Linked DNA regions of Homo sapiens. The protein of the gene in region 1 interacts with the protein of each later gene in a biochemical or structural test. Each region holds a gene or a part of one and is shown on either strand. Other genes may lie near its edges.

Region 1 (3,779 bases):
GGGGGATAATAGAAATCGCTTACAACACTGAACCCCACAAGGAAAAATGAAGTGAAAGACAAGGAACATCCCCAAAATGAAAATTTCCTCTACCACTTAAGCTTCAATTTGATTACAAGCGTCCTTGATAACAGAATCTGAGGGGTTGAGTATGAAGCTGGTGACAAGACTGGCATGTCTTCAGCACAGCAAGGCCAAATCTATGTAATATACTCATTAACCCCACCCTGAGAACGCCCAGTTGGACCAGATAAATAAATACCACATAGTATGATGCTACTAAAGGAATTTGGTCTTGACTGGTAGTCCCTTCTAAGTTTGAATCTTTTCCTGATTTCTATGGTATCAGTTACCAGAATCAAATGGGTGTCTCTCTTGACTAAGTTTCAGCGTCATTAAATAACACTGGCAATAAGCAATGATTCTGATAGGTAGGCATTTTAAATCAGTACAATTCATTCAGAGGGCAATGCCTACATATCAGAATAATAAAGATAAGTGGCCAGGTACGGTGGCTCATGCCTGTAATTCCAGCACTTTGGGAGGCCGAGGTGGGTGGATCACTTGAGGTCAGGAGTTTGAGACCAGCCTGGCCAACACGGTGAAACCCTGTCTCTACTAAATGTACAAAAAAAAAAATTAGCCAGGCGTGGTGGCACAGGCCTGTAATCCCAGCCACTTGGGAAGCTGAGGTAGGAGAAATGCTTGAACCTGGGAGGTGGAGGTTGCAGTGAGCCGAAATCGCACCACCGCACTCCAGGCTGGGCAACAGAGTGAGACTCCGTCTCAAAAAAATGAAAAAAAAAGTATTCAATAGAAACAAAGGAAGAGCTTTACCATAGCATCAGGTACATAAGTAGAACACTGGGAAAAATGTAGAGCTCTAACAGAAACTGAAGGGTCTGGTAAATTATAGCGCAGAGACATAACAGAATACTGTACTCATTAAAAAATAACAATTATAAACATAAGCTATTATGTTGGTGCAAAAGTAACTGTGGTTTCAATTACTTTTGTGCCAACCTATAGAAACGTAACATTTATGACATAACATTAAGTGAAAGACCGGAACAAAAACTGGTATGTGTGTGTGCATGCGTGTGTGTGTGTGTGTGTGTGTGTGTGTGTGTAAAATAAACCCTATATATTTTTTAAAATATCTTTTCAAAATGACTCATTACCAAACTTCTCATTTTTAAAGTTTCCCCATCTATTCTATTTACTCAGTTAAATTTTTCATTTCTTAACCCTCCTATGCGCCATGTCTTTCTGATCATTTCTGTTTTCCAATATAGTTGTTTTTATCTCCTTTACTCATCGTCTTGACAAAAATTTCACTGTCTATCATGCTTTCTTTTCCAACGGTAGGAAAAGTATCTACATAAAGGCTATAGAGTAGAGACCAAACTCACCCTGTGATCCCTGCACTACCTTCCCAAATCCTGCCTTGTTATCACTGTGAAGAAGACCCAGCAGTAAAAGGGGACTGAAATGTAAGAGTGACACACCATGCCATGCCTCAAAGCTACATTCTAATTATTTCTGCCTATCTATCTACATGTGCATATGAAGTAGATATTTAAAATAATCAACTACTGCATGTTTCTTACCTATTGCATGAATCTGATTCTGATGAAGAAAGAACTTCTTGAATATCAATACAGCTAGAAGAATCCTCTTCTCTGTCAGGTTCCAATTCCTCTGGGGAGTCCAGCTTTGATTGAGAAAAGTGGTTTGTTACTGAGGTCATATTATCTTCCTGTCCTAGGAAAAAATAAATTTAAGAGTACCTTAAAATCTACAACTTCTGTATGCCTATTACTTCTGCAACACTTAATACTGCCATGTGCACTTAGTAAAGTTGAAGTATATGTCACATAGATTCCAGAACTCTAGTGACAGCCAGAGAGCAAGAATTAACACTACAATGGTGCTATCTAATTATACTGTCCAGCCCATGTTTTTCCAAGATTAATTAGTTTAAAAATAAAATTTATTTTAAAACCAGAAGCAGGAAGAATCTTGTAATTCTAATGAGGCCTCTATTAACATATCACTAAGGAATTCTTGCATATTTCATAGATCAGAGAACACTGACAAACCAACATAAGAAGTATAACCAAAAAAAGACTACAGATTCAACTAATAAGACAACCACAATATTTGCTACTATTATATGATAGTGAATCTATCTGGACATTTTTCTAAACATTTTTCTAGGTTAACTAGAATCTAATTATTCTCTATGGAAAAGGACAACTAAACAGACATAAGGAATATTTCCATTTGATCCAATACACATCACATTTCCGTGCATTCTTTGTCATATTCTCAGATTTCAAGGTCTCTTATTGCAGATAAAAATAAAGACCCCAAAAAGCTGGAAGGATGCAGTGTTTACAAAAATGTGGCATATGGGTATGGCCAATTTTCTACAAATATGAGTGGAAGAATATCTGTGAAAGATTCTTTAGTGCCCAGGATTCTCCCACTCATCATGAACGCTGCTGGGATTTTCATCTGTGCTGTCCTTAACTTTCAGGAACTGAGGAGGTACCTCACATGCAAGCTACATGTGCTAATAATACTACAGAGCTCCTTTCATGTGTTTCCTCACAGAGAAACAGAGCTTTCACACATCACTCATCAAGCACTTGTAGAGGCAAGTGGTCTTCAACAAAGCACACTAAAAATACAATTGTCAAGGTTTGATTATACAGAGAGAATTTATGGGGAAAGAACATAACAAATTCTTCAAAAAACCTTGCCAAGTTCATACAGTTAAATTTTTTTCAGAAATAGTTCTAAGTTTTTGTTACACTGAGAGAACAGCATACTTCACAAGAGTGTAATTCCTAAAAATATGCTCCTAATGTCATCTGGCTGTCAATAAACTATCATTAGCAAAACAAAACAGCACCCTCTAATGTATATCTGGAAAAGGGAAAAAGAATTTAGCCAGGATGACCATCCTGAACCTCTAGGAACTCCTCTTGTAAACAGATACCAGAATCACATTAAGAGGAGCCAATCCCCCAGTCAACTCGGTTCACCCAGGGACTATATTACTCAACTAGTGAGGTGCATGCAAGCAAGCTAGCAAACCAGGGAACAGGAATTCAACTTAAAACAATCTTTTATTTTTGCACATTGTCTGTATTCTTTTCTTACTTCTTCCACTCTTACATACACTTCTAGAAGATATATTCCCTCTTGGGAACAAACAGCATTCAATAATCTGTGGGCATAAAAAATAAGTTATCCTTCCTACTTGCCCTTAGATCTCAGAATGCAGGACTCCAAAATAGAGCCCCGAAGAGTGAGGCTCAGACATCAGAGCTCCCCAGAGACACACAACAAAAACAGGCTAAGTTTTCACTTGAGAGAATATGCAACTTGTTCACTTACATGAGCACTTCAATGTTCTAAAGAGCAACAATTATATTGGTTGTATGATGCTATACAAAATCCATCTTTTCAGTCAGTCTGTGTCTGTCTTCATCTCTCTCACATACCTTACCCTCTCAGACATCTCATTCATGCACAGCAATCTAAAAGCAGCAATCACCTCTGAACCCCGGAAAGAGTAATATTGATGTTCATAAATACATACAAGCCATCAATGATATTCAAGAGAGGTTCAACTAATTAAAAAAACTTTTCTTAATGGGAAATATTCAGTCAGATTTTCTCAAGTGCTAAACTAGTTTCTAGAAATATCCTTTAACAACTGCATGAACAAGTTCGAGTTGTTCAATGACCATGAGTTACATACTGAG
Region 2 (3,779 bases), on another chromosome or scaffold:
TAATCTTTTTTTTCCTTCAGGCTCATAGTCTGCTTAATTCCAATTTACTTACTAGGTTCACAGCTATTCTGAATAGGTAAAGTTGTTAGAAGTTGAATGAAAGACTAAGTAAGTAAAATGTTACTATATACTTTATAATGAGAAACTACTAATATTACACTTAAATTAGCCAGTCTGAAAATTATAACTACAGTGGCCATCAATACTCTTTTAAATACCTGCACTGGCTGTCAGTGTTGTTTTCTGCTCAATTCTGAAACGAATTTCCTTTACCACTTCCTGGGCTGATGTTCCAAAAACAACTGAGTTTTGGAGTATTTGAGGATTGTTTTGTTCTTCAAAGTTCACTTGGAAAGGATCTCCTGGGGGCTGCACATCAGAAGGACTCTCTTCAAAAAGTAGTGGAGAGATGGATCGTTCATGCTCACTCAGTTTATTAACTTCCTTTCCTGGATTATCTAAGTCATAAACAGGAAAATAACTCACCTTTATTTTAAGAAGTATATACTTCATAAGTTAGGTTTCCCTACATTATTTCTGAAGACAAAAACAAAAATCTAGTTTAGTTTAGTTTCTAGGATCCAAGATCAGAAATGCCATCATTTATCATTTAATGTTTTATAACCATTAAAGAGAACACTGATTATGAATTTTTCTTAAAAAGACTATTATCCATTTCCACAGTATAAATATTAAAAGGAAATATCTTATGTAAAACTCACTAATGTTCGTACCTAAATTAATTGAAATTCAGAATTAGGTTTCAGTTCACATTACCTTTTTCTTAAAAAAAAAAAAAGGAAATCTTTTCTTTATTCTTCTTTAGGAAGAAAAAGAATCTTCGAAAATTAGAATTTAGAATATAATAAACAATATATAATAATTATACTGAAAATAAGTTTTGTTTTTAGAAGGAAAAACACTTAACTTTTCTTCATTTATGGAAGAAACCTTTTAGATGTTAAAATAATCTGAATTTTCTTCTTTCAAATGCTGATTTTAATTTTGATTTGCTTGTTTATAAAGTATCACTTTGACTAAGGGCACATTTGTAATAAATAGAAATTACCTGTGAAAGTTATGCTTCTTTGAATATACAAATTCTGAAGGTCTGATTGGATAATCCAAGTTTAAGAAAAAGAGACGTTATTATTAATAGGCTATAAACTATTATTACAAAGTAAAGTAAAAATACCAGTCTGGTTATTGCCTCTTTATATTTATATTTTTCATAAATGGACTGTAAAATATTCTTAAATCTATACTGATACTAAAAATGTCTCCATGAACAAATCTATTAAAGCCTGTTTTCTTGGCTTAATGTAGAAGAAATACAATTTAAATGTATTTATAACAACCAAGGTTAGCAACAAAGCTTTCTGATCCCATCTCGTAATTTTATTACATATAAATATTTTCCAAATTAAGGTCAATACAGAAGAAAAAATTAAATTTCTAGTTTTAAGATGCATACGAATGTATATTACTTGAAAAATGTATTTGGCTGTTTAGGAAAAAATTTTAAAGATAATATAAAATAAATATGACAGACATCTGATTAATTTAAAAATTTAAAATATGTAGTGTGAAGTAAGTCATAGATGTTAATTCAGTCAGATGTTTTCCAAATCTGAATTCCCAGGGCACATACACAATAAGCTTATTTTCTTTCTCTCTTTTTTTTTTTTTTTTTTTAAGACAGGGTCTCCCTCTTGCCCAGGCTGGAGTATAGCTAGGACTACAGGCGCGAGCCATCACGCTTAGCTAATTTTATAATTTTTTGGTAAATATAGGGTTTCACAATCTTGCCCAGGGTGGTCTCAAACTCCTGGCCTCAACTGATCCTCCCACCTCAGCCTCCTAAAGTGCTAGGATTATAAATGTGAACCACCTTGCCTCGCCAATAAGCCTTATTTTCAAACTTACATTAGCTGATATTTATGTGCTTCAGTTCCTGTCATTTTTTAATATGCTGGTTTTAAAATGTAGAACAATTCAGAGGGGAAACAGGCCAGGCAAGGTGGCTCACGTCTGTAATCCCAGCACTTTGGGAAGCTGAGGTGGGAGGATCACCTGAGGTCAGGAGTTCGAGACCAGCCTGGCTAACATGGTGAAACCCCATCTCTACTAAAAATACAAAAATGAGCCAGGAATGGTGGCGCACAGCTACTCCGGAGGCTGGGGCAGGAGAATTACTTCAACCCAGGAGGCAGAGGTTGCAGTGAGCTGAGATTGTGCCACTGTACTCCAGCCTTGGTGACAGAGTGAGACTCCATCTCAAAAAAATAAAAAAAAATAAAAAAAAAATAAAGACTGTGAAACAATTGAAATGGTATCTACCTGGAGCCCTTTTCCCCATCTGGATGGGTAGAAGTCACGGTAAAGAAAGCTACAGAAAAACTGCAAACCAAGTAAGTTATCTGCCACATTCATAAACCCGTTCTGCAGAGTTTTTTATGCCATGTTTTGTACCTCATGCCTCTACCACCCTGCCCTCAGGTGAGCCACTGTGAGAGCAGAACTATACAGCAGGAAGTGAAGAATGCTGCCTTCTCACACATTATCAGAGCTGCTGCAGAATGTTCAGGTACCTTTTCAATCTGAACTACTTTCTACTTTTTTGTGAGGCCTGGCTGTGTAACTAAGAGCTGAAGTAGTTTCTTATTTGCTTTGTGACAGAAACATCTTTATAATCCCCATAACTAAGGTAATCAGAATGTAACACTAGGATTAAAGCATTTCATTTGGAAGACAAGTGCTAAAAAGTGTATGGTATTTCAGTTTCTTATATTATCTGGCACTCACCATCCAGATTTACATGGGAGAGTAAACATTTAAAAAATTATTATTTTATTTGTATGTAGAGATGGTAGTTAGCAATATATTTCCAAAGACAAACACCTTTTAGAAAATGGGGAAACAGCAAAACAATGTCTTGGACTTTAGAGGAAGATATATCAATTGCCTTCCACAGTTCCAATGCACTATTGACAATTTCCCATGGCATGATGTGAGGTGAGACACGCCTGAAAGTCCAGCCCACAGGTATTTACACATGAGAAGAAAAGTTTAACTATTCCAATTGTTTAAGAATATGAAAATACACGAAGAGGGCAATATACAAGTAAATATGTTAAAAGCAATAGATATTAAAAATTCACATATTCATAGTGAGTTTGGACATTATAATAAATGAAAAGAACATTAGTAGGCTGGGCGTGGTGGCTCATGCCTGTAATCCCAGCACTTTGGAAGGCCGAGGCGGGCAGATCACCTGAGGTCAGGAGTTTGAGACCAGCCTGGCCAACATGGTGAAACCCCACCTCTACTAAAAATACAAAAAATTAGTCGGGTGTGGTGGCACGCGCCTCTAATCCCAGATACTTGGGAGTCTAAGGCAGGAGAACTGCTTGAACCCAGGAGGCGGAGGTTGCAGTGAGCTGAGACTGCACCACTGCACTCCAGCCTGGGCAACACAGTGAGACCCTATCTCAAAAAAAAGAAAAAAATTAGTAGAAAATGAAAACATTTACTTTAATCCCAATGTAAAGCTTTTAAAACACATCATGCAAGTAATTGTTATGGGAGGCCCTCAGGGGATGCTTTGACATAATTATTTAATGATTTTCCCCCATTCTCTTGTGAAAGTAAGGAATTAATAAAGTAAGATTTTATACAAAGTGACATCAGGCTTTATGTTCCACATCCTCAAACAATAAAGTTACACCAAATAAGGAAAACCTTTTGCTCTGTGCCTGTGTCGAGAAATGATGATTATT

Evidence for each region. The genes of interacting proteins can lie anywhere in the genome.
Region 2: the proteins of RAD18 (region 1) and POLK form a complex in vitro, tested with the Homo sapiens proteins (one study listed by BioGRID).

The regions. Positions count from the first base shown.
Region 1 is NC_000003.12:8,897,284-8,901,062, forward strand, and holds part of RAD18 (E3 ubiquitin-protein ligase RAD18), read right to left. Parts: intron 1,765-3,779; coding exon 1,611-1,764; intron 1-1,610. UniProt on the Homo sapiens protein: E3 ubiquitin-protein ligase involved in postreplication repair of UV-damaged DNA. Postreplication repair functions in gap-filling of a daughter strand on replication of damaged DNA.
Region 2 is NC_000005.10:75,577,888-75,581,666, reverse strand, and holds part of POLK (DNA polymerase kappa), read right to left. Parts: intron 1,112-3,779; coding exon of another isoform or gene 1,070-1,111; intron 459-1,069; coding exon 219-458; intron 1-218. UniProt on the Homo sapiens protein: DNA polymerase specifically involved in DNA repair. Plays an important role in translesion synthesis, where the normal high-fidelity DNA polymerases cannot proceed and DNA synthesis stalls.